Homo sapiens: one gene and its partners. The protein of the gene in region 1 interacts with the protein of each later gene in a pairwise test. Each region holds a gene or a part of one and is shown in the gene's direction. Other genes may lie near its edges. The genes, in order: CDR2, CDK18, CHIC2 and CCDC87.

The links.
Region 2: the proteins of CDR2 (region 1) and CDK18 interact in binary tests that used the Homo sapiens proteins (3 or more experiments, as listed by UniProt).
Region 3: the proteins of CDR2 (region 1) and CHIC2 interact in binary tests that used the Homo sapiens proteins (3 or more experiments, as listed by UniProt).
Region 4: the proteins of CDR2 (region 1) and CCDC87 interact in binary tests that used the Homo sapiens proteins (3 or more experiments, as listed by UniProt).

The regions. Positions count from the first base shown.
Region 1 is NC_000016.10:22,345,403-22,350,624, reverse strand, and holds the end of CDR2 (cerebellar degeneration-related protein 2), read left to right. Parts: intron 1-775; coding exon 776-924; intron 925-1,181; coding exon 1,182-1,346; intron 1,347-2,801; coding exon 2,802-3,660; 3' UTR 3,661-4,689; downstream 4,690-5,222.
Region 2 is NC_000001.11:205,528,637-205,533,296, forward strand, and holds the end of CDK18 (cyclin-dependent kinase 18), read left to right. Parts: intron 1-362; coding exon 363-460; intron 461-687; coding exon 688-793; intron 794-884; coding exon 885-927; coding exon of another isoform or gene 928-1,137; exon of another isoform or gene 1,138-1,616; intron 1,617-1,622; coding exon 1,623-1,713; intron 1,714-1,991; coding exon 1,992-2,069; intron 2,070-2,707; coding exon 2,708-2,742; 3' UTR 2,743-4,154; downstream 4,155-4,660. UniProt on the Homo sapiens protein: May play a role in signal transduction cascades in terminally differentiated cells.
Region 3 is NC_000004.12:54,047,602-54,054,639, reverse strand, and holds part of CHIC2 (cysteine-rich hydrophobic domain-containing protein 2), read left to right. Parts: intron 1-5,334; coding exon 5,335-5,389; intron 5,390-5,529; coding exon 5,530-5,685; intron 5,686-7,038.
Region 4 is NC_000011.10:66,590,057-66,597,200, reverse strand, and holds CCDC87 (coiled-coil domain-containing protein 87), read left to right. Parts: upstream 1-4,137; 5' UTR 4,138-4,185; coding exon 4,186-6,735; 3' UTR 6,736-7,025; downstream 7,026-7,144. Other genes in the region: CCS (copper chaperone for superoxide dismutase), read right to left, coding at 3,487-3,559, 3,901-3,939. UniProt on the Homo sapiens protein: Plays a role in spermatogenesis, where it is important for normal sperm head morphology. Also required for the acrosome reaction and thus normal male fertility.

The DNA.
Region 1 (5,222 bases):
TTCTTTTCTTAAAATAAACATATGGTATTGTGGTATAATAAAAATTATATATTTGGTCTTTGTCCCTGGTTTCTGGCATAGAACTCCTAAAACCCTTGGAATTTCCTGATAGGTTGAGGTCTGGTCACCAGAGAAGGCAACCACATGATTAGAGGGTTAGATCTATCAGTCCCAGCCCCACAACCTCTGGATAGAGGGAAGGGTTGGAGCTTGAGTTCAGTCACCAATGGCCAATAATTGAATCAATCATGCTGATGTGAGAGAAGACCTGGAGAAAACTGAAATGGGTCTAAAGGAGCTTCTGGGCAGTGCTGGGAGGCCAGTGAGCCCAGAGATGGAGACTCTATGTCAGCCCCACCCCAACAAGAGTTGGTGCTGACAATCGGAGAATTGGTGTTGGAACAGCAGAACAGCAGGTATCTTTTTTTTTTTTTTGAGATGGAGTTTCATTCTTGTTGCCCAGGCTGGAGTGCAATGGCGCCATCTCGGCTCATTGCAACCTCTGTCTTCCAGGTTCAAGCAATTTTCCTGCCTCAGCCTCCCAAGTAGCTGGGATTACAGGCGTGTGCCACCACACCTGGCTAATTTTTGTATTTTTAGTGGAGACGGGGTTTCAGCATGTTGGTCAGGCTGGTCTCGAATTCCTAACCTCAGGTGATCCACACGTCTTGGCCTCCCAAAGTGCTGGGATTACAGGCGTGAGCCACCGCAGCCAGCCAAGAAACAGCAGGTATCTTATCTGTTTGTGTCACCTGGTCCTGATCTTCTCTTACAGTATCTGACGAAGCAAGTGGAACTTCTACGGCAGATGAACGAACAACATGCAAAGGTTTATGAACAATTAGACGTCACAGCAAGGGAACTGGAAGAAACAAATCAAAAGCTAGTTGCTGACAGCAAGGCCTCACAGCAAAAGATTCTGAGGTAAATTTTCTAGAATCTGACAAGGAAGGACTAGGGGGAAGTTCTTTAGTATAAACTAGAATAGAACATGGCTGCAGTGGGTTTGGGTCAATATGGGATAAGGTTTAATTTAATTCTTTTTGGAGAATGGAGATTAAATAGACATCCTTTCCAATTAAGAAAGCCCAGTGTGAGTGGTTTGCACCTAATCTCTCCTCACCGCTTTTGCCCTTGATTCAATATGACAAGCAGCAGTGGCTTCTGTCTGTTCCTCACAGCCTGACTGAAACGATTGAATGCCTGCAAACCAACATTGATCACCTCCAGAGCCAAGTGGAGGAGCTGAAGTCATCTGGCCAAGGGAGAAGGAGCCCGGGAAAGTGTGACCAGGAGAAACCGGCACCCAGCTTTGCATGTCTGAAGGAGCTGTATGACCTCCGCCAGTAAGAGCCTGCCTTTCTGTGGAGTTACAGCAGGGACTGTCTCATGTCATTGGCACATTCTGATTTCCAGTAGATTGAAAGTACCATTTTAAGAAAAGTCACTTAGCTATTAAGCTACCATTGGTTTGAACAAAATCACTTAAACATATAAATTACAGAGTTCTTAGATATTAGTAGTTCTCATTTTGAAAGTCTTGGAACACTTATTTCAGTGTTTTTAATGTATTAAATCATAGTTTAAGATGAATTCTGATAGACTAGATTTGGGAGTTGTGTTTTACATTAGAGTGAAGAAAAACAGAAATACTGGTAAAACAAAAATTCAAGCGAACAGGAGATTTTTTGCTTAAAGAAGTACCTTTATAATTTAGAGTTATAAGTCTGAATCTTTAAGAAGTATTTATGGAACACTTGTGTGGCAAGCTGTATGCTAGACCCAAGGGTTGGCGAGCAAAATAGTTTCTACCCCTGTGAGCTTTCAGTCTAACGGAACGGCAGATAAGCAAATAAAAACACAAATAAATAGTCAAGGTGCTTCAGACTGAGCAGGAGAAACCAGGTGGTTCATTTGGTGGGTCTCAACCTTGGCTGTACATCAGATCACCTGTGGGGTTTTTCAAAATGCAAATACCAACACATTTCCTCAGGCCTAAATCAGAATTTCTAGGTGCGGGTAAAAAGCTGCCCAGGCAATTCTGATGAACATTCCTGGTTAAAAATCACCACAGCAACAGTAATTTGCTGTAGTGATTCAATCGTAGTTACATATTATGAATCATTTGGAGAGCCTTTAGAAACCCTCAGGCCAGGTAGCAGACCAACTAGGTTGGAATCTGTGGGTTGGGACCCAGGCACCAGTACTTTTTAAGGTTTCCCTTGTGAGGTCATTGTCATACTGCTAGAATAGATGTTCTCTAGTACTTTTAACATTAAAAAAAGATTTGTCACAAAAATTGAGTTTGCTTTCATGTGTTTATTTACCAGCCTCACACAATTCCATTTTAGCCACTGCTCCAAGTGTGGCTAAAAACCAATCACTGTTGGCCGGGTGTGGTGGCTTACGTCTGTAATCCCAGCACTTTGGGAGGCTAAGGCAGGAGGATCACCTGAGGTTGGGAGTTCGAGACCAGCCTGACCAACATGGAGAAACCCCGTCTCTACTAAAAATACAAAATTAGCTGGGCGTGGTGGCGCATGTCTAAAATCCCAGTTACTCGGGAGGCTGAGGCAGGAGAATCGCTTGAACCTGGGAGGCTGAGGTTGCAATGAGCTGAGATCGCTTCACTGCACTCCAGCCTGGCGACAAAGTGAGACTCCGTCTCAAAAAAAAAGAAAAAAAAATTAGTCACTGTCACAGCTCCTCAAATTTATTTAGTTGAAAAAAAATCACCAGTCTTCCTCTCGTCATTTTCAGTGGACCTGTGTAATATATTCTTTCAATATTTTTTTCCCTAGACACTTCGTGTATGATCATGTGTTCGCTGAGAAGATCACTTCCTTGCAAGGTCAGCCAAGCCCTGATGAAGAGGAAAATGAGCACTTGAAAAAAACAGTGACAATGTTGCAGGCCCAGCTGAGCCTGGAGCGGCAGAAGCGGGTGACTATGGAGGAGGAATATGGGCTCGTGTTAAAGGAGAACAGTGAACTGGAGCAGCAGCTGGGGGCCACAGGTGCCTACCGAGCACGGGCGCTGGAACTAGAGGCCGAGGTGGCAGAGATGCGACAGATGTTGCAGTCAGAGCATCCATTTGTGAATGGAGTTGAGAAGCTGGTGCCAGACTCTCTGTATGTTCCTTTCAAAGAGCCCAGCCAGAGCCTGCTGGAAGAGATGTTCCTGACTGTGCCGGAATCACATAGAAAGCCTCTCAAGCGCAGCAGCAGTGAGACGATCCTCAGCAGCTTGGCAGGGAGTGACATCGTGAAGGGCCACGAGGAGACCTGCATCAGGAGGGCCAAGGCTGTGAAACAGAGGGGCATCTCCCTTCTGCACGAAGTGGACACGCAGTACAGCGCCCTGAAGGTGAAGTATGAAGAGTTGCTGAAGAAGTGCCAAGAGGAACAGGACTCCCTGTCACACAAGGCTGTGCAGACCTCCAGGGCTGCAGCCAAGGACCTGACTGGAGTGAACGCCCAGTCTGAGCCTGTTGCCAGCGGCTGGGAACTGGCCTCTGTCAACCCAGAGCCCGTGAGTTCCCCTACAACACCTCCAGAATACAAAGCGTTGTTTAAGGAGATCTTTAGTTGCATCAAGAAAACTAAGCAGGAAATAGATGAACAGAGAACAAAATACCGATCACTCTCCTCTCATTCTTAATTGAACCTCTAGCTCTACTACTAATTTGCCTATTGCCTATCGCCTCTCTCTCCCATTCAGACAAGTGTTTGTAGACTCTGAAGCCTAATGTTACTCATGACGTTTGCCTCATTGCTTTGCTTATTTAGCAAATGCATACAACGAGGAAAGGAGGTGGCTAGTGGTATCAGTTCTCTGATCCACTTCCATTTAAGCTCCCCAGGAAATCCCATGACAAACTGGCCTCTGGCTGGCGCGCTGATTAGACTTCAGTTCCTGAAAAGGACCAGTGGAGGGAAGAGCTATACTTCTGGAGAAGTAGGCCTGGAGTTACTACAGTATGGGGGAAAAGGGTCGAGTTAGAACAAAGCTAAGGCAATTCCTATTGCTTCCTTGCGCAACTTCTCAAAACGATGAAAGTCAGAAGGCTGTCAAACTCAAATATCTTTGCAAACAGTTTGAATACTGTGAATTCATTACGAAGAATGTTCGAGAGAAAGCAGGGGTCTAATCCAAAAGAAATGTCATTAACCAATACTCCAAGTCCTTGAGTTTTGTTATATCTGAACTAGTTGAACTGTGACTGACAGGTAATCCTAATATATCCAAATCCAACTGAATACCAAATTGAGATGGCAAATTTTTGTTTGATATAAGTTAGCTTGTTAGCATATGCCCTAGAGGGCCTCCATCCCTGTATTCTAATGTTTTTACTCAAAGCTCTAGCCTTTAGGATAGGTGAATATGTAAATCTTTTATCACTTTCTCAAATTCAAACTAAAGGGGAAAGATCAAACCCCTTCCCTTCCTACCTGTTTTCTGAGCTGGCTGACTTGCCAGCCACAAGCTGCTCTTGCAGAGTTCTTACCATTCCTGTAAATGTTTTGACTTGTTGCAGAAATTCCTATCTACTTTATTAAGCAGTATTGATCTGACTGTGGAAACATCCTCTCACTTGCATTCTTTTAACTTAAAACTATTTAAGAACTGATGTTCCGATTATTGTATATATTTTTCTAAAAACCAAATAAAGCTACCTATGAAAATGAACAGATGGATCTGTGTCTTACTTTCAATATAAGCCATTTCGCTCTTATAACCAACTGTTCACTTTTTTTCTTCCAACAAATATCGCGAGAAAGATTTGCAGTGATTTTTTTTTTCCTATTTTAAACAGGGAATCCTTGGATTTGTGTAACTTAATAGCACAAATTCTGCTCATATTGCTAAATGCTCATTAAAACTACTCTGGACAAACATTTTCAAATTTATATACTCTGTAATTTTCACTATTTCAGAAATGTCAGACTTGGTTCTGAATTAATAGCATTTGACAAATTGATTCTCAAAACATTTGATCAACCATAGCAAAGAAACTATACTATTCAAACTATACTATTCAAACTATACTATTAATGTTTGAATAGTATAGCTTATTTAAAAACAGTTTGCATTTCTATTAATAAGACAATATTTTTTAATCTGTTAGCCATTTGTAGTCTCCTTTGCCTATTTAAAGAGCTCTATTTATATATGCAGTTTTGCAGTTAGAAGTTTGAAAGTGTTTTGTCCCAGATTATCTT
Region 2 (4,660 bases), on another chromosome or scaffold:
AATGGATTTATGTACTTCTCTTCCAGTGGGGCACACAGTGGAGAGAGTTTGAGACAACACTGCTGAGAGAATTGCCACATGGGCGCTGGCTGCACAGACCCAAACCTCACAGAGTGAAAGGGGACTTTCCTCACAGAGTGAAAGTCGCAGCTTTCCCGAGCCCAGGGAAGCCCCCCAGAGAGGGGCTGTAGTGGGGGCTGGGCAGTTCTAGGAGCCTCCACTGCCCTGGGCCACCCCTCCGCCGCCAGAGCCACGATCCCTGCAGCCGCCTGTGGCAGGTCGTCATTGGTGCCCTGGTGGAGCAGCCCTAGGAAGGGCGGCCGCCCCTGCCTGATGCCGACCCTACCCCTTGCTCCTCGCAGGGGCGTGGGCTGCATCCACTACGAGATGGCCACAGGGAGGCCCCTCTTCCCGGGCTCCACAGTCAAGGAGGAGCTGCACCTCATCTTTCGCCTCCTCGGTCAGTCTCCCGCTGCTCCGTCCCTCTCACCACCAGGGGGCGCCGGAACTCCTCCAGCCCAGGCGCGGAGCGGGACGGGGAGGAGCGGCTCGGCCGCCTCTCTCCCGGGCGGGGACCCCCTGTGGCCTCGGCCATCTTTGCTCCCACCTCATACATTGCATCCCTTTCAAGTCGGCCTTGGCCCTGGGCCTCACGCAGGCCCTCCCCACCCTCTCTCGTCTCCCCAGGGACCCCCACAGAAGAGACGTGGCCCGGCGTGACCGCCTTCTCTGAGTTCCGCACCTACAGCTTCCCCTGCTACCTCCCGCAGCCGCTCATCAACCACGCGCCCAGGTAGCCCCTGCGCCCGCCGCCCCTCCTGCTGCGGCCCTGGCTCTCCCATCCCCAATCAGGCACAGCCTGTGTCCGCGCCTTCTCCTTGCAGGTTGGATACGGATGGCATCCACCTCCTGAGCAGCCTGCTCCTGGTGAGTGTCCTCCCGGCGGGGCCCAGGGAGAGGCAGCCAAAGAGCCAGGTCCCTGTGCCCCATGCCGGGCCTACGCCCCAACTTCTGTGGCTCGTGTGCTTACACGTCTTTGAAACATCTCCCCTGTACTCTCCACCCCCAAGGCCAAGGGGTGGCCTCCATACACATCCTCTGGAGTCTGTGCACTGCGAGCCCAAACCCGTTACTTAGCTGTGTAGCTCTGGGCAAGTTACAGAGCTCCTCCATGCCTCAGTTTCCTCAGCTGCAAAGTGGGATTAATACCTATTTTATAAGATGGCCGTGAGGATACATTGAGATGACGGGACACACTTAGTGTGGTGCCTGTCTTGTAAGGCACACGATGAAGGGTTGTTATCGGCACTACGCTTCCTGTTACGGATGTTCTCCATCTGATCATGGTTGGTTTGCATCTGTATTTCTATCCCAAGAGAAGGTCACTCTCCTGAAGTTTCATTTCTGGTTTTTCCTGGTGGCTGGAGACCGAGGAGCCTTCCCCTGAGTCTTGAGATGGCCTGAGGTTGGGTTTGTGGTAGGGGCTGGAGGCTGACCTGGGGCTTCTCCTGTTAGCCTCAAGCCTCACCCACCTTGGTGCTCTAACCAGCACTGGAGTCCTGCTGCCCAGAGGGTTTGCAGCCCCCCAGCCGGGCCCAATAGCCCCACCCTGTGCCTTTCAGTATGAATCCAAGAGTCGCATGTCAGCAGAGGCTGCCCTGAGTCACTCCTACTTCCGGTCTCTGGGAGAGCGTGTGCACCAGCTTGAAGACAGTGAGTACTGGGGGTCCGGGAGCAGGGCCACCCAGAACCAAGGAAAGGGGTTGGTGAGTGTGGGCAGAAGAACCAGAACAAAGAGGCCAGAGGCCCCAGCCCCAGCAGAGCAGCCCCGGGCACCTTGCCTCCCCTGCTGGGGTTCTCATTCCAAATTGAGGGGGCAAACAGTGGAAATGAGACGCTGCCTCGAGGGCTCAGTTGGTCCTTCTGGGCCAGTCCTTACTGGAGGCCAGCTCCACGCAGCCCTCTCCAGACTATGCACTTCTCTCCCCCAGCTGCCTCCATCTTCTCCCTGAAGGAGATCCAGCTCCAGAAGGACCCAGGCTACCGAGGCTTGGCCTTCCAGCAGCCAGGTAGGGGCTTGTGCTCTCCTGGACCCCTCCCCTTGTTAGTGGAAGCCAGAGCAGGCGACCCCTCCCCAGTGGGGACTCCCATGGTCCCCCCACCACTGGCTTCCCTTTGGACTCTTTGGGGAGCAGAGAAGGGGTTGGTTTCTCCTGCCTAGACTTCCTCGTCCAGCTCTTCCCTCCTCAACCCTCCACCCCAGACAGGACATTGCATTTGACAGTAGCCCTGGCAAAGAGGCATGCTGTCTCTGGTGCATTCTCTCTGCAAACCCTGAGCTCTCTAATCAGATTCCATCCTGGGAGAACGGTACTTTGTTCCTAGAACAGTCAATGGCCTTGGACATTGACAAATGCTTTCCATGCATCGTCTTCTTTAATCCTTAAAATACCCCTTGAAGCTAGTACTATTAATATTCCCCATTTCATAGTCAATGAAACTGAGGCTCTGGGAGGTTAAGTCACAAGTTCATGCAGCTAGTAAGTAGCAGAGATGGGATTTGACACCAGGTCAGACCGGCTCCTGTTTGCATGCCCTTGCTTGCTCTGTCAGAGCAGCTCTGGGGGACAGCGACTGTCCCTGCTGACCTGGGGTACCCGTCAGCCCAGCCTCCTCCCTGCAGCCCCACCTCTTCTCCATTCTCCAGGACGAGGGAAGAACAGGCGGCAGAGCATCTTCTGAGCCACGCCCACCTTGCTGTGGCCAAGGGACAAGAGATCACATGGAGCACAAATTCGGGTAGGATGGAGCCTGTGTGGCCCTCGGAGGACTGAAGAACGAGGGCTGACAGCCAGCCTGGAAGACCGCTTGGCAGCCCTTCTGGCCACGGCTGTTTCTTCTTTGTGCTTCCCGTGTGCCTCCCCAGTAGCCCTCACCTGCATACCAACCCCTCCTTTACCCACGTTGGGGCTGGCATAAGCTGCTTCCCTGAGAGGACATGAGGGGGGGGCGGTCCTCGTACCCTCTCCCACCCTGGTGTTTGGGCACCTGCGTGGGATGCACACGGATGACAGAATCAAGGCGCCAGGATGGGCACTCTGCCCTGGATACAGGCTCTACCCTCCTCCCCCAGGACCTGCCTAGTGCCAGTTTGGTAGTCCCCCTTTCTGGCCCCTTGGAGCCCACACACGTTTCATCTTTTTCCCCTCTGAGAGCAAGAAGAGACATGGCATGTTCTCTGGGACCCTGGAATCCTAGGTACCCACATGTGTGCCAAAGCCTACCCCACCTGGCAGGTGTCCCACAGCAACAGAAGGAATAGTAGTCCCCACTCTTTCCATCAGCCCTACCCTACCCTCATTCCCCGACACCCTCTGGCTTGAACCATGGCTGAGCAGTGCCGGCATACGCTTTGCTGGCATGCTTGGATGCCCAGCTGTGTCCAGAGGTGGCCTGGGACCGCCAGTTGCACGCCTGCCACCTCAGCCAGCCCCCGCCCAGCTCATCAGTCTGAATGGAGTTGCCTTAAATTGGCAGGTGGTACCGTACTCACTGCCCTTGGAGCTGTGACCGGCTCCTGCCTGTCCACCCCTTCCCGAGGTGGCTCCTGCTTACCTTATCATCCCAGGGCTCTGATTAGCCAGGCCTGGTCAGGGTCCTGGGGACGGCACCCAGATATGCAGAGTCACCCTGACACTGGTGCCAGGCTGACCTCAGCTCCCGAAGGCTCGCACAGCCTCCCCATCCTTCCTTCCCAGCCCTTGTGGCTCTGTCCACCTGATCCCAATACCAGCTTCCCCCAGCCCCTGCCACCCCAGAGGGCGGCCACGACAGGGAGAGGTGTAGATGCCACCATCTGAGGGAGAGGAACGTGGAACAGGAGCAGGCTCTGATGCTGAGAGGCTTGCCTCCGGGGGCTGGAAGCCTGGGTGGCCGGGGCCCCTGAAGAAGGCTCCCCTCTGTATCCCCCAGGTCTCCTCAACACTGGGCTGATCCTGAATGGCACAGGCCAAGGGGAGGCCAGCCTCGCCTTTCTACCCAGGCCCCCTGCCCTGCCCACCTCAGGCCCCCACCCTCCACTCCTCCCCACGGTACTGTGAACGTCGTGTGACTCAGTGCAGAGACAGATAATATATTTAATTCATGTACAGAAAGGAGCGAGCAGTCTCGTACAGAAAAGCTGACTTTGATAGATTGATGCCAAAGATGGAGAACTGAAGTCCCCCCTCCAGGCCTAATGAGTGTGGGTGGGGTGTGCTTGTGTGTATGTGTGTGTGTGTGTGTGTGTGTGTGTGTGTGTGTATATATATATATATATATATATATATATAGTGAGGAGAGAGTTTGATTTGTGTGTATCTCTGACCTCCCCTACACCCCAGGCTGTGGGACGAGTGCCTAGCATTCACCTTGCTGTATCCTGGGTGCTGCTGCGTTCAGAGCCAGAAGTTGGCTCTTGCTGAGGAGCATCAGTGGTTGTTGTGGGTGGGCAGAGGAGTCCCAGGCCTGGGAGTCTGACCTGTGGCCTGGCATTGGCCCAAGTTGGTGCCTGTGGGGTGGGGCTGGCCAGGAGAGCAAAGAGGGACCCCTGGGCGGGGGTCTGGGGTCTGGCCGTGCAGCTAATCCCTGTGTTCCTGATGCCAAATGGCCCCCTGGCTTC
Region 3 (7,038 bases), on another chromosome or scaffold:
AGGGAGTTCCTAGTTAGGCATGCGGAGTAACAGACTACTCTCTCTAGTATACATGGTTTTGAGCTGTGTAGCATCTTTTCAGATTGTTGTATTATAATTAATTTAATTATAAGATATTTCTGTTTTAAAAATTTCACTGTTAAAAATATCACTGTAACTCAGAAGAAAAGAAACATTGAACATATATTTTTGATTAAGGGCAAAACAAGTTGAAGCAGTGGATTCTTGCATTTCTGCATTTAAAAAGCAAAATTCGTTATGAGTTCAAAACATGTCTTAATTTAAAATGATAGCTCAGTAGTGAATGCCAAGAGACATTGTTAATATGAGGAGATACAAGGAACATAGAAGAAGTTAAAACTGAAGTAAGAAGGACAGAGGATTAGATGGACTTGAACTATGGAAAACATTGAAATGCATTCAAGAAAACTATTGATTAGTGAACCTAAATTTCCTTGTTTACTTATCTTAAAATACCTAGTTAATACCAAATAAAATATTCAAATAAGAAAACAAAATTAGGGTGGTATTGTACATTATAAAATATTTGTCTGCCGGGTGTAGTGGCTCACGCCTGTAATCCCAATACTTTGGGAGGCCAAGGTGGGCGGATCACTTGTCAGGTGTTTGTGACCAGCCTGGCCAACATGGTGAAACCCCGTCTCTACTAAAAATACAAAAATTAGCCCAGCATGGTGGCGAGCACCTGTAATCCCAGGTACTTGGGAAGCTGAGGCACGAGAATCGCTTGAACCCGGGAGGCAGAGGTTACAGTGAGATGAGACCACGCCACCGCACTCCAGCCTGAACAACAAAGCGAGACTCTGTCTCAAAAAAATAAAATAAAATACTCGTCAATTATTTAGTTAGCAGGAACTATACATTTCTGAAAAATAGCTCTTATTTAAAAAAAAACAAATGACACAAAATGTCTTTAATACCCCCTCCCTAAAATAACACTGCAGAATACTTGATTATTCATTAACATATCTGTGCCACTGCAGCTATTTTCTCTTGATACATTTCTGGAAGTAGAATTACTGGGTCAAAGGGTAGGAATTTTTTTTTTTTTTTTTTTTTTTTGAGACTGAGTCTCACTGTTGTCAGCCCGGGCTGGAGTGCAGTGACGCAATCTTGGCTCACTGCAACCTCCGCCTCCGGGTTCCAGCAATTCTCCTACCTCAGCCTCCTGAGTAGCTGAGATTACAGGTGCCCACCACCACATCCAGCTATTTTTGCATTTTTAGTAGTGATGGGGTTTCACCATGTTGGCCAGGTTGGTCTCGAACTCCTGACCTCAGGTGATCCACCTGCCTTGGCCTCCCAAAGTGCTGGGATCACAGGTGTGAGCCACCACACCCAGCCAGGGTAGGAATATTTTTTAAGACCCGTTTTACATACTACCAGATGGCACTCCTGAAAATTCTATCAACTTGCAAGATTTTTGTTCTTTTCAGTTAATATCATGGTATATTGAATTTTCTTCTTCAACATTTTCCTCCATTGAGAAAGATGGTAAAAATACTGAAGATACATAAATAAATCTAAAAATGAAAGGGAGGGAAGGTAAATAAGTTTATGTTCAATGGTATTTCTGTGTTTTTAGTTTGCAAATTTCATTTTTAATGGTTGTTTAATATTCTGTTATATTGAGATAAGATAATTTTCTTAACCATTCCTAAAATGTTGTAAATAGATACATATTTATATTTGTGAATAAAGATTCAATGAACTTGTTTATGCATAAATTTAATCCACATTTCAAGTTATTTTTTAGGTAATATTACATTTCTAAAGAGAAAACAGTATGACAAAGGTATAAATATTTTCAATGCCAAATTAATCTGAAATGGTTGTAACAATTTATAGTTCCATTGACAGTGTGTGATATTTTTCCATCTTGACCTTCTTGCCAACATAAAATATTTTTTAAAATTTAATTAGTCTTGTAGATAACTGAATTAAGATGCCACCTACTTTAAATCATATTTTTAAAAATTATCCAAGTGTTACTTCTGGCTTTTTGGATTAGTAGAATGTTTGGTTATTAGAGTCTGAAGGGGGTTCAGCTTCCTACTCAATGCAGGAATCATTGCTCTTCTTTCAAGTACATCAAATTATTATTTTATGGGATGAAACTTGGCCTTTCTAATACTGTGCTGAACCAGTTGTACTTTGTCTTAGAATAAAGGAAATTATTTTTACCATATATAAAAAGTTTTATGTAAACTTGTAGGTACATTTATAATGCTGTCAATTGAAAACAAAACATAGATGCCATTTTCATTCTAACAGTCTCTGCCTCCTGCTGAACTTAAAAAAGAAGCCAGAACTAAGGTATTGTCAAAATTAAGTGGTTTATGTCAAAAATAAATCATTAGAGGTGATATTTTACAGTTATATTATCAAACAAGAAGTGTGACTTTTCCTATCCATTTAATAAAATAAGACCGTCTTGCTAAAATTCTACCTGCTACTATTGTTTTGGTTGGTCTAGATTTGGATTAAAAAAAAAGGTTTTGGCAGGGATGAAAAACATAGCAAAGGAGATATTTGCTGTGGCCTGTGCCAAATAAGAAATTCTGACATTCAAGCTCTTTGCCAGGAGAAAGCATGCTATATGAAAGAAGACTTGCTGAAAAGAGTTGTTTTCAACTACTCTGATGAGAACAGTCTTATTAGTAAAGAAGTGTGTAGGAAAGCCTGGATTGTGGTAGTTTGAATAATGAATGGGAGGTAACGTAAAGATAGTTAATGTAAAGGAGTCTTTCAAAACATTAGTTGAGGAAGGAAAGAAATAGATGCCATCAGACATTGAGAGAGAAGAAGAAATAAGGATTCACATCCTCAGGTGGATAGACTAATTCAGGTTTGTAGGCTATGTTTAAGGAGCCTGAAGCGAGGTAGAAATACAGTGAATTGCAGAGGAGACTGGAGGAGATGCACTCAGAAGTAAATGGTTAGTTTTTGGAAGCTTTCCTCCATTGAGAGATGGTAAAAATACTGAAGATATATAAGTAAATCCAAAAATAAAAGGGAGGGAAGGTAAAGCAGTTTATATTCCATGACATTTTTTTCTCTCAGAGTTGACAACTGTGGTTATTTGCAAAAAAATGTTGGTTGTGAGGATAAAGTGGAGTACCTAAAGACAGGCACAACAACTACGGAGCATGGAAAAGAGAACTTACTGGGGATGAATAAAGATTGTTACAATAATACTCATGAGATTAGAAATAAGATATGTATGTTATATATATATTTATTATTGGTGATACATTTATAAATGTGATTTTTCTCCAGTAGCTCCAGGCAGTGTGAAGAAGGTAAACAATTTAATTGAACCTGGGTTGGCAAGGGACACTGTAGAGATGATTAAAGGTGTTTGTTGGAGTATGTTCAAAATGATTGACTATGTAGTTCTGGCAAATAAGGAAGGAAATGGAGTCATAGGGAGCTATGGAGGGGTGGGAAGCAATATATTACAACCAGAGGCCAAAAAACAAATTTAGTAAGGATGGGAGAAATGAAATGATTGATGGCAGTGGTAAGAGAAGAATTTTACAGTTCAGAATTTCAGAGGTGATACAGTCCCAAGTGATGACAATATGCAGAATATATCACAGTGAGTAGGTTGCTGAATTAGATGGAGGTGCAGGAGGTAAAGTTCTTTAGAATAGATAAGGTCAGGAGTGAACTGTAGTTGAGGATTTCTAAGGAAAGAGTGGCATTTCAACAGGGTTTTTGGTTAAAGTGAAGATATATACAAGTATGTGGTGCTTAACTATGGGGACTACTCTGATAAATGGGTCAGTAGGCAATTTCATCATTGTGCAGACATCACAGAGTGTGTGTATACAAACTTAAAATGGTGTAGCCTACTACACATCTAGGCTATATGGTATAGCCCATAGCCCTTAGGCTACAAACCTGTACAGTATGTTACTGTACTGTGTATTGTAGGCAGTTATAACACAGTGGTAAGTTTTTGTGTATCTAAACATAGAAAAGGTACAGTAAAAATACAGTATTAAAATCTTGTGGGACCACCTTCTAGTATGTCCTGACTGAAACGTTGTTATGTGGCACATGACTGTATGTATTTAAGGTTTGTTTTGTTTTTTAAGATAAGATATAAGGAGGTATCCTGATAGCTGCAGATCAACAGATTGAGGGTTTCAAGGTCTATCAGGAAAGATAAACTTGAATATGATGATCATGAGAAAGCAGGATAACAGATTGGAGTGGTTTGCAGAGTTATGACTATAGACTGGAGGAATGTAGAGATAGTGAAATGGATGTATGTGGGATATGAGTAAAACAAGCCTGTTTCAAGATTCCATTTAGATTTAGGTGTAAAGTTGGAGTCCCCCCTTCAAAACTTTACAGTGTATTACATGAACTTTCAAAATTATCTCAAATTATATAAAAGTAAAATTGGTCTCGTGTGTGATTTCTTAAGGAAACAAAGGAAGCTGTAAAAGCCATAAAAGCCTGCACTGAAGTGTTGCATGGAATGTGCTCAGTAGTTGTGATTTGAATGAATTCTCTGTTCTCCAAGTACTGGTAGACTTCTGATAGATAAAAGCAAGATAGGTTGTTTTTATTATGTCTTTTATCTTCTTGTTATATTTACCATTCTTTGAAAATAGTTTAAATCTTTTATCAATTCTAAAGCCATGGAATATTTTAACCATGATTCAAGAAAAGGTCTTTTAGGTAATAGGAATAGATATAGGTATAGTACACGTCTACATTTTCTTTCATACCATCTAATGCACTGACAAATAGGTGTTCAATGGAACCTAAGACGGTTCTTGGTAGCACTTTGTCCATTCCTACTTTTTTATTTTTTCTCTCCCTTTTTCCTTATTCTTCCCCTCCTCACTCTTTTTCCTGCATTTTTCCTTCTCATCTTATTGCTTGTGTAGGACACCTGCTAAAATTCACAGGTATTGTTTGTTTCCACCAATAACATTAAAAGCTGGAAAAAATCGCTATCCCACCCATTAAAATAATATGCTTTGTAGTTACTTTTTAAGATATAAAGTTGGTAGCTCAAATTAAATGAACCATTTATATTTTTGTTTACATACTGCTGGTTAATTAACATTCAGCCCCTTATCATTATGCAAAAGTTTCCATTTAACTGCTAAAATAATTGTTACATTTCATAAATTGCTTGTTACAGTTATTTTATCTCAAACTTCCATTTTATGTCTAAAACTTCCTCCATATGTGAAAATGCTTTCTATTGACTTGACCTTTAAATTAAATGGTCTACATTTTTGGCAACAATAACATGTAATAACATATTCTTCTTATTTTTTAAAATAGATTTGGACTGAGCAACAAATTTGAATCTGAATTCCCTTCTTCATTAACTGGAAAAGTGAGTGTCTCATTTATGTACTATTTGTATGCCTCAAAATGAAAGTTTTTTTCTGAGAAAATTAGAAAAAAGTATGCTCATCAGTCATGTTTTTTGACATTAATATTGCATTGTTATTATTTCTTAAAATTTTTCTTTAGGTAGCTCCTGAAGAATTTAAAGCCAGCATCAACAGAGTTAACAGTTGTCTTAAGAAGAACCTTCCTGTTAATGTACGTTGGCTACTTTGTGGCTGCCTTTGTTGCTGCTGCACATTAGGTTGCAGTATGTGGCCAGTTATTTGCCTCAGTAAAAGAGTAAGTTGAATTATATATTTTAATTTAAATTTAGAAGTGGACAAGCAAGTCTTGCATTTATCTAGTTTTTATTTTTTGTATTGAATGAATCACACTATCCTGAATAAAATATGAAAATAATCTGATCCAGGAGAGGAGTGAGTCAGTAAAGTTACTATATATCCAAGTGCTGTTATTAAATAGCCATCTAAAAATTATATTTATAATTTTAGAAGCAAGGAGTAGTGTATGGCATTGTCTGTATCTGTACATTGACAGTGGTGTGGTATAGTGATCAAGGATGCTGGCTTCAGCTCTACCACTTTTCTCTGTGACCTTAGGCACGTTTCCTAACCTCTTTAAACCCTACTTGACACAACTGTAAAATGTTCACCTACTACTTGAATATAAAGGTAAAATGAAAATGTTTGGAAAACTCTTAGCTGAATATCTCAAAGGAAGTGGTTAATAAGTATTAATTAATAGTATTCTTACTGACTGTAAGATGGTACCCATACAAGAAATAAAATGGTTACAATGGTTGTTTCTTGTTGGTAAGATTATGGGACATTCTTTTCTGCTTTTTATATTTTACAAGTTTCCTGTAGTGAGCACAAAGTGATTCTGTAATCAGAAAAAATAATTTCAAAGACTCATTATTTTGACTGCTTATAATAAAAAATTCTGGCCAGGCACAGTGGCTCATGCCTGCAATTTTAACACTTTGGGAGGCCAAGGCGGGCGGATCACTTGAGGTCAGAAGTTCAAGACCAGTCTGGCGTACATGGTAAAACCCTGTCTCTACTAAAAATACAAAAAATTAGCCAGGCGTGGTGGCGGGTGCCTGTAATCCCAGTTAGTCAGGAGGCTGAGGCAGGAGAATCGCTTGAACCTGGAGGGCGAAGGTTGCAGTGAGCTGAGATCGTGCCATTGCACTCCAGCCTGGGCAACAATAGTGAAACTCTGTCTCAACAAACAAATAAACAAAATTTTAAGATGTTGGTAGAGATATGACAAATTATTATAGATTGAATGTATTATATTCTTGTTAAAATTTTCAAAAATTGTATTTATATGTATAAAAATGATACTTTAAAAAAATTTTTTTAAATAAATAAATTTTATTTTTTAAAAATGTATTTAAAAAAATAGAGACAGGGTTTCTTTTTTTTAATTATTATACGTTAAATTCTAGGGTACATGTGCACAACGTGCAGGTTAGTTACATATGTATACATGTGCCATGTTGGTGTGCTGCACCCATTAACTCGTCATTTAACATTAGGTATATCTCCTAATGCTATCCCTCCCCCCTCCCCCCACCCCACAACAGTCCCCGGTGTGTGGTGTTCCCCTTCCTGTGTCCATGTGTTC
Region 4 (7,144 bases), on another chromosome or scaffold:
AGGTGTGAGCCACTGCGCCCAGCCGAATTATATCTTAATAAAGCTATTACACACATAAAAGGCAGGGACTATTGCCATCATTAGTAGAGCTAACACTTACTGGGCATGGACGGTGAGCGAATCCTGTGTTTTACCTGTCTTAACATATTTGGTACTCCTACTAAGCCTCTAAGTTAGGTACAATGATCCCCATTTTACAGATGAGAAAACTGAGGCACAGAAAGATGAAGAAACTTGCTCAAAGTCGCACTGTAGTAAGTTGTGCAACTGGACCTCTGACCATGCAGCCTAGCTCCAGAGCCCCAGCACTTAACCCAGATATTGTACTCACCCTAGGAAGCAGCCCTTAGGCTCCAAGCTGGGTTAGGACCACACCCCTTGTGGTCCTGTAGCAGCTCACACTCCCCCTCCTGTAATTCACATTGCACTGACTACAATCCTGTTTCACTCCTAGGCCGCCAGCTCTGTGAGGGCAGGAGCTCTGTGAGGTCCACAAGGGTCAAGTTCAAAAGTCAGTTGTCGGCCGGGCGCGGTGGCTCATGCCTGTAATCCCAGCACTTTGGGAGGCCAAGGTGGGTGGATCACAAGGTCAGGAGATCGAGACCATCCTGGCTAACACGGTGAAACCCCATCTCTACTAAAAATACTAAAAAGTTAGCCGGGCATGGTGGCGGGCGCCTGTAGTCCCAGCTACTCAGGAGGCTGAAGCAGGAGAATGGCATGAACCCGGGAGGCGGAGCTTGCAGTGAGCCGAGATTGCGCCACTGCACTCCAGCCTGGGCAACAGAGCGAGATTCCGTCTCAAAAAAAAAAAAAAAAAGTCAGTTGTCAGATGGCCAGGCGTGGTGGCGCACACCCATAATCCCAGCACTTTGGGAGGTTGAGGCAGGTGGATCACATGAGGCCAGGAGTTCGATACTAGCCTTGCCAACATGGCAAAACTCCATCTTTAGTAAAAGTATGAAAATTAGCCAGGCATGGTGGTGCACACCTGTAATCCCAGCTACTCAGGAGGCTGAGGTGGGAGAATCAAATGAACCGGGAGGTGGAGGTTGCAGTGAGCTGAGATGGTGCCACCGCACTCCAGCCTGGGCAACAGAGCAGAACAAGACCCTGGCTTTTATGTGCAAAAGCTATTAGAGGGGGCAACAGAAGCAATGGGGAACCCATCAAAGGATGAGGTTCTTACACAGGCTAGGGAGAGGTGGGGTGGCCTGGAGCAGTGTGGAGGCCTAAGTATGTTTTGGACACATAGCAGATAAGATGTCCTGATGACAGGCCTCAGCATAGGAGGGTTCCCAGACCCTCAGGTCTCCAGAGAAGAGCTGATTCTCTGCTCCTGAAGTGGGAAGTTCCTTGTCACTATGTACCTCCTGAATTATTGACTGAGTCTAAACCAAGAGGGAGGCTGGTACCTTAGCCAAGCAGCCATTCAGTTTGCTCCTTGAGTTAAGACTGGTAGACCCTGGAATGTAGCCAGGCCCACCCTTGGTTGGCTCAGAGCCCAGTGAGAGAGAAAACAGAAGGCCACAGAGAACACCAGGGCAAGTGATAGAGATTCAAGGGGGTGAGCCTTGGGCTGGGGGATCCTCCTGCTTACCTCCTGAGAAGGCCTTCCCCCAGGCCTCCTGAGATGGCAACTCTCTTTCTCTGTGTGTGTGTATTCTAGAAAACTACAGCTTCCCTCCCTGGCCCCATGAGAAAGCCAAGCCGGACCAGAAAACACAGAGTCACCAGAAGTCTTTATCTGTTGCCTAAGAAACATGCTGAGGGCTGAAAACTGCTCCGGGTCCAAGAGAAAGGCCAGCTGTCTGCTCTCCTCGCAAGCAAGTAGTACAGGAAGTGGAGGGCCCATTCACCACCCAAAACGCGTAGTCTAAGCAAACCCAGCTTCAACATTGTCCCCTCCAGCCTCCTTCCATCCAGATCACCACCTGTAAGCCCTTCTTCTCATAATCCCCTAGGATTTACTGGGCTGTTATTACATGCCAAAGACTTTTCTAAATGCTTTTTTTGTATTAACTCGGTTACTCTTCAGGACAATCCTCCAGATTAGCTTCTATTATCATCCCCCATTTAACACAGAAGAAACAGAGACACAAAAAGTAACATGCATGAAGTCTTAGTGCCATTAAGTGGCAAAGAGGGGGTTTGAACTCTAGAGCTCATACCCCTAATCACTTTACAGAGTCCACCACTACCAGGGTCCCAGCTTCAGAAGCCATCTTATCTCATTCCCTCTCACCATTGCTCTTTCCACGAAGCATTCTGCGAATGCCATCCAGGCAACGCTTGCATGCTCATTTCCACCTGAGTGCAGGGGATGTGCCTGATACCCATGTGAACTCTTCTCCCTAAAAAGCCCCAGTGTCTGGTCCATACCTGCCGAATGACTGGGTGAACTTGTTTTTTTTTTTTTTTTTTTTGAGAGAGGGTCTCACTCTGTCACCCAGCCTGGAGTGCAGTGGAGCGATCCAACTCACTGCAGCCTCCACCTCCTGGACTCAAGCAATCCTCCTGCTTTGGCCTCCCCAGTAGCTGGGACTACAGGAGTGCACCATGACGCCCAGCTAATTTTTGTATATTTTATAGAGGAGGGTTTTCGCCATGTTGCTCAGGCTGCTCTCAAACTCATGGACTTGAGCAATCTACCTACTTTGGTGTCCCAAAGTGCTGGGATTACAGGCGTGAGCCACTGAGCCTGGCCTGGATAAACACTTAACAGAATCAAAGGAAGCCAGTTCCCAGAGCCATGCTGGTGGCTCTACCTTTCCAGATCTTTCTCATTGTGCCAGGTCACCTCCAGACCAGCTGGCCTTTTATTTATTATTATTATTTTTTTGAGACGGAGTCTCACTCTGTTGCCCAGGCTAGAGTGCAGTGGCGCGATCTCGGCTAACTGCAAGCTCCGCCTCCCGGGTTCACGCCATTCTCCTGCCTCTGCCTCCCAAGTAGCTGGGACTACAGGCGCCCACCACCACGCCCGGCTAATTTTTTGTATTTTTTAGTAGAGACAGGATTTAACTGTGTTAGCCAGGATGGTCTCGATCTCCTGACCTGGTGATCCACCCACCTCGGCCTCCCAAAGTGCTGGGATTACAGGCATGAGCCACCACACCCAGTGGTATAGAAAGCTACCCAGGATGGTATAGGGCCTGAGCTGCTGTTTGCTTTGTCAAGATTATGTTGTTTCCCAAGCAAAAACTGCCTGTTTTCCCAGGAACTCCCTCAGCCTAGCTCCTCAGTCTCTGGGGCACCTGAGGTTCAGGACAACAAGACAGGCAGTTAGAATCTGTCAGGGCAAGCTGGACAGCTGTACTCTAGGCTCTGCCTCCAGGTCTGTGTGTAACTCTGAGAACATGCCTTTCACTCTCTGGGGTTCACTTTCTGCATCTGTAAAATGGGAGTAGGGTTCGCCTAATAGATTCGCCTGGTCCCTCCCAGAGGCTTCTGGACTGTCTGCAGAAAAGTTTACCCTGTTCTTACCTGCCACCCCTTGCAGGGATTTGCGCACCGCGTCCACACAGCTCTGACAGGTCATCTGCACCGCGAACTCCAACTGCAAGGGCGGCAGGGACCAACCGATGATCGCTGGGGAAGTGCCTTGGTATGACTTTGTTTCACCACCTACCCTATGACCACCGCAAGGGTCTGGGAACAAGCCCCACTTAACCCCTCTTCAAGCACCTTCTTCATGATCTCTCATGACCATTCCAGGACCATGGGAGTCACCCCCCAACACTCACGCAGGGCCCCTGCTACCCTCGCACCCTAGTTTCATCCCATGGCCCCAGGCCCCAACCCAAGTGCCCACTCCTTCTCCTCTTCCCAAGGTAACGATCATCCCAGGGGCCGAGGCTCTCTGCCCGGCGAGGCTCCACACGAAGCCTCGACCCTCACCGTGCAGAGGGTCCCCTGGTTCCCCGAATCCGAAGCCATTCTGGACCCAGTCACCACCCCGAGACGCAGAACTCCTCCGGCGCAGGAGCACCAACCAGCGCGGCGTCGCGGGGACTGAGCCTCTAAAGCCACCCTTAACTCCTCCTCCTAGTGCGTGCGCACGCAAGGCCCTGCTTCGTCAGCCACCGGGTGGCGGCCGCGCAGGCGCACTCGGGCCGTCGGGCTCCTGGTTGCCTTAGTAACCCCTCGGCTTTCTGTTCCTGGACGGTGGCGGCCGCCGGCTCTATGATGGAGCCCCCGAAGCCCGAGCCTGAGCTCCAGCGGTTTTACCACCGGCTGCTGCGTCCGCTGTCGCTCTTCCCCACTAGGACGACGTCCCCAGAGCCTCAGAAGCGCCCCCCGCAGGAGGGCCGGATTCTGCAGTCCTTCCCTCTGGCGAAGCTGACGGTGGCGTCGCTGTGCAGCCAGGTGGCCAAGCTGCTGGCCGGCAGCGGGATAGCAGCGGGAGTGCCTCCTGAGGCCCGACTACGTCTCATCAAGGTCATCCTGGACGAGCTGAAGTGCAGCTGGCGGGAGCCGCCCGCCGAACTTAGTCTGAGCCACAAAAACAACCAGAAGCTGCGGAAGCGGCTCGAGGCCTACGTGCTGCTGAGCAGCGAGCAGCTCTTCTTGCGCTACCTGCACCTGCTGGTGACCATGTCGACTCCCAGGGGGGTCTTCACTGAATCAGCCACCCTCACCCGGTTGGCCGCCAGCCTCGCCAGGGACTGCACACTCTTCCTTACTAGTCCCAACGTCTACCGTGGCCTGCTTGCCGACTTCCAGGCCCTGCTGAGGGCAGAGCAGGCCTCTGGGGATGTGGACAAGCTGCACCCTGTCTGCCCCGCTGGGACGTTCAAGCTGTGCCCTATCCCCTGGCCTCACAGCACTGGCTTCGCCCAAGTGCAGTGCTCTAACCTCAACCTGAACTACCTCATCCAACTCAGCCGTCCACCAGAGTTTCTCAATGAGCCAGGAAGGATGGATCCAGTGAAGGAATTGAAGTCCATCCCTCGGTTGAAGAGGAAAAAGCCTTTCCACTGGCTGCCCTCCATAGGAAAGAAGAGAGAAATCGACATCAGTTCCTCACAGATGGTGTCGCTGCCCAGCTATCCTGTGGCCCCCACCAGCAGGGCTTCCCCCTCGCCTTTCTGCCCTGAGCTCCGGAGAGGCCAATCCATGCCCTCCCTGCGTGAGGGCTGGAGGCTGGCAGATGAGTTGGGCCTTCCTCCACTCCCATCTCGCCCCTTAACCCCGCTGGTCTTGGCTACAGAGAGCAAACCAGAGCTGACTGGGCTCATCGTGGCTGAGGATCTGAAGCAGTTGATAAAGAAGATGAAGTTGGAGGGGACTCGCTACCCACCACTGGACTCAGGCCTGCCTCCTCTCCTGGGGGTTGTGACCCGTCACCCAGCTGCAGGGCATCGCCTGGAGGAGCTGGAGAAGATGTTGAGGAACCTCCAGGAGGAAGAAGCCTCTGGGCAGTGGGACCCCCAGCCCCCCAAATCCTTTCCACTTCACCCACAGCCAGTGACCATTACTTTGAAGCTTAGAAATGAGGTCGTGGTCCAGGCGGCTGCCGTACGGGTCTCTGATAGAAACTTCTTAGACTCTTTCCACATTGAGGGGGCCGGAGCCCTGTATAACCATCTGGCTGGTGAACTGGATCCCAAAGCCATTGAAAAAATGGATATTGATAACTTTGTTGGCAGTACTACCAGGGAGGTCTACAAGGAGTTGATGAGCCATGTCTCTTCTGACCACTTACATTTTGATCAAGGGCCCCTAGTTGAGCCTGCAGCAGATAAAGACTGGTCGACCTTCCTGTCCTCAGCCTTTCTACGTCAAGAAAAACAGCCTCAAATCATCAACCCTGAGCTGGTTGGACTTTACTCCCAGAGAGCAAACACTTTACAGTCCAATACTAAGAAGATGCCCTCCCTCCCATCACTCCAAGCTACCAAAAGCTGGGAGAAGTGGTCAAACAAGGCCTCCTTGATGAACTCATGGAAAACCACCTTGTCTGTGGATGACTACTTCAAGTACCTCACCAACCATGAAACAGATTTCCTTCATGTCATCTTTCAAATGCATGAAGAAGAGGTTCCTGTGGAGATTGTGGCCCCTGCCAGAGAGTCCCTAGAGATTCAGCACCCTCCCCCATTGCTAGAAGATGAAGAACCAGACTTTGTGCCAGGAGAGTGGGATTGGAACACTGTGCTAGAGCACAGGCTAGGAGCTGGGAAGACACCCCACCTGGGAGAACCCCACAAAATTCTGAGCCTGCAGAAGCATCTGGAACAACTGTGGTCTGTGCTTGAGGTCCCTGACAAGGACCAGGTGGACATGACCATTAAATATAGCTCCAAAGCCCGCCTGAGGCAGCTGCCTTCATTGGTGAATGCCTGGGAGCGGGCCCTGAAGCCCATTCAGCTGCGGGAGGCATTGCTGGCGAGACTAGAGTGGTTTGAGGGACAAGCTTCCAATCCCAACCGCTTCTTCAAAAAGACCAACTTGAGCTCCAGTCACTTCCTGGAGGAGAATCAGGTCCGAAGCCATCTCCACAGGAAGCTCAACTTAATGGAGTCTTCTTTGGTTTCCCTCCTGGAGGAGATAGAGTTAATCTTTGGCGAGCCAGTGATCTTCAAGGGGCGGCCCTACCTGGACAAGATGAAGAGTGACAAAGTGGAGATGCTCTATTGGCTGCAACAGCAGCGGCGGGTTCGCCACCTGGTCTCGGCCCTGAAGGATCCCCACCAGTCAACCCTGTTCAGGAGCTCAGCAGCCAGCCTTTAGTAGCTCCTGGGAATACCCCTATTACTCCTTGACCAGGCCCAGTGCCCTCAAATGCCTCCCTCACCCCTAAATGGCCAGCAGCTCATCTAGACCTCTTTACTGCTTTGGAAGAAGAAATATTTGTCTATATCTGGGAGTGGAGGGTTCAGGAACATTATGCTTCCAACTATGAAGGGATTGAGACTAAAACTATTGTTTTCTTAGTGAAATTCTCATGAAAGAATCCCCAAGCCTAGTAGTCCCATTATGTCAAGCCTTGCACAATACAAGCCAAATCTCCTATATCAAAAGAACTGAGACCTTGGAGTTAATTGTAGTGGGAAGGGTCAGAGGCAAAGGTGATCTTTGGAACAACTCACTTTAGCATTCCTATCACACTACATTAAATTGTCACCTCTTTTAGTTCTCA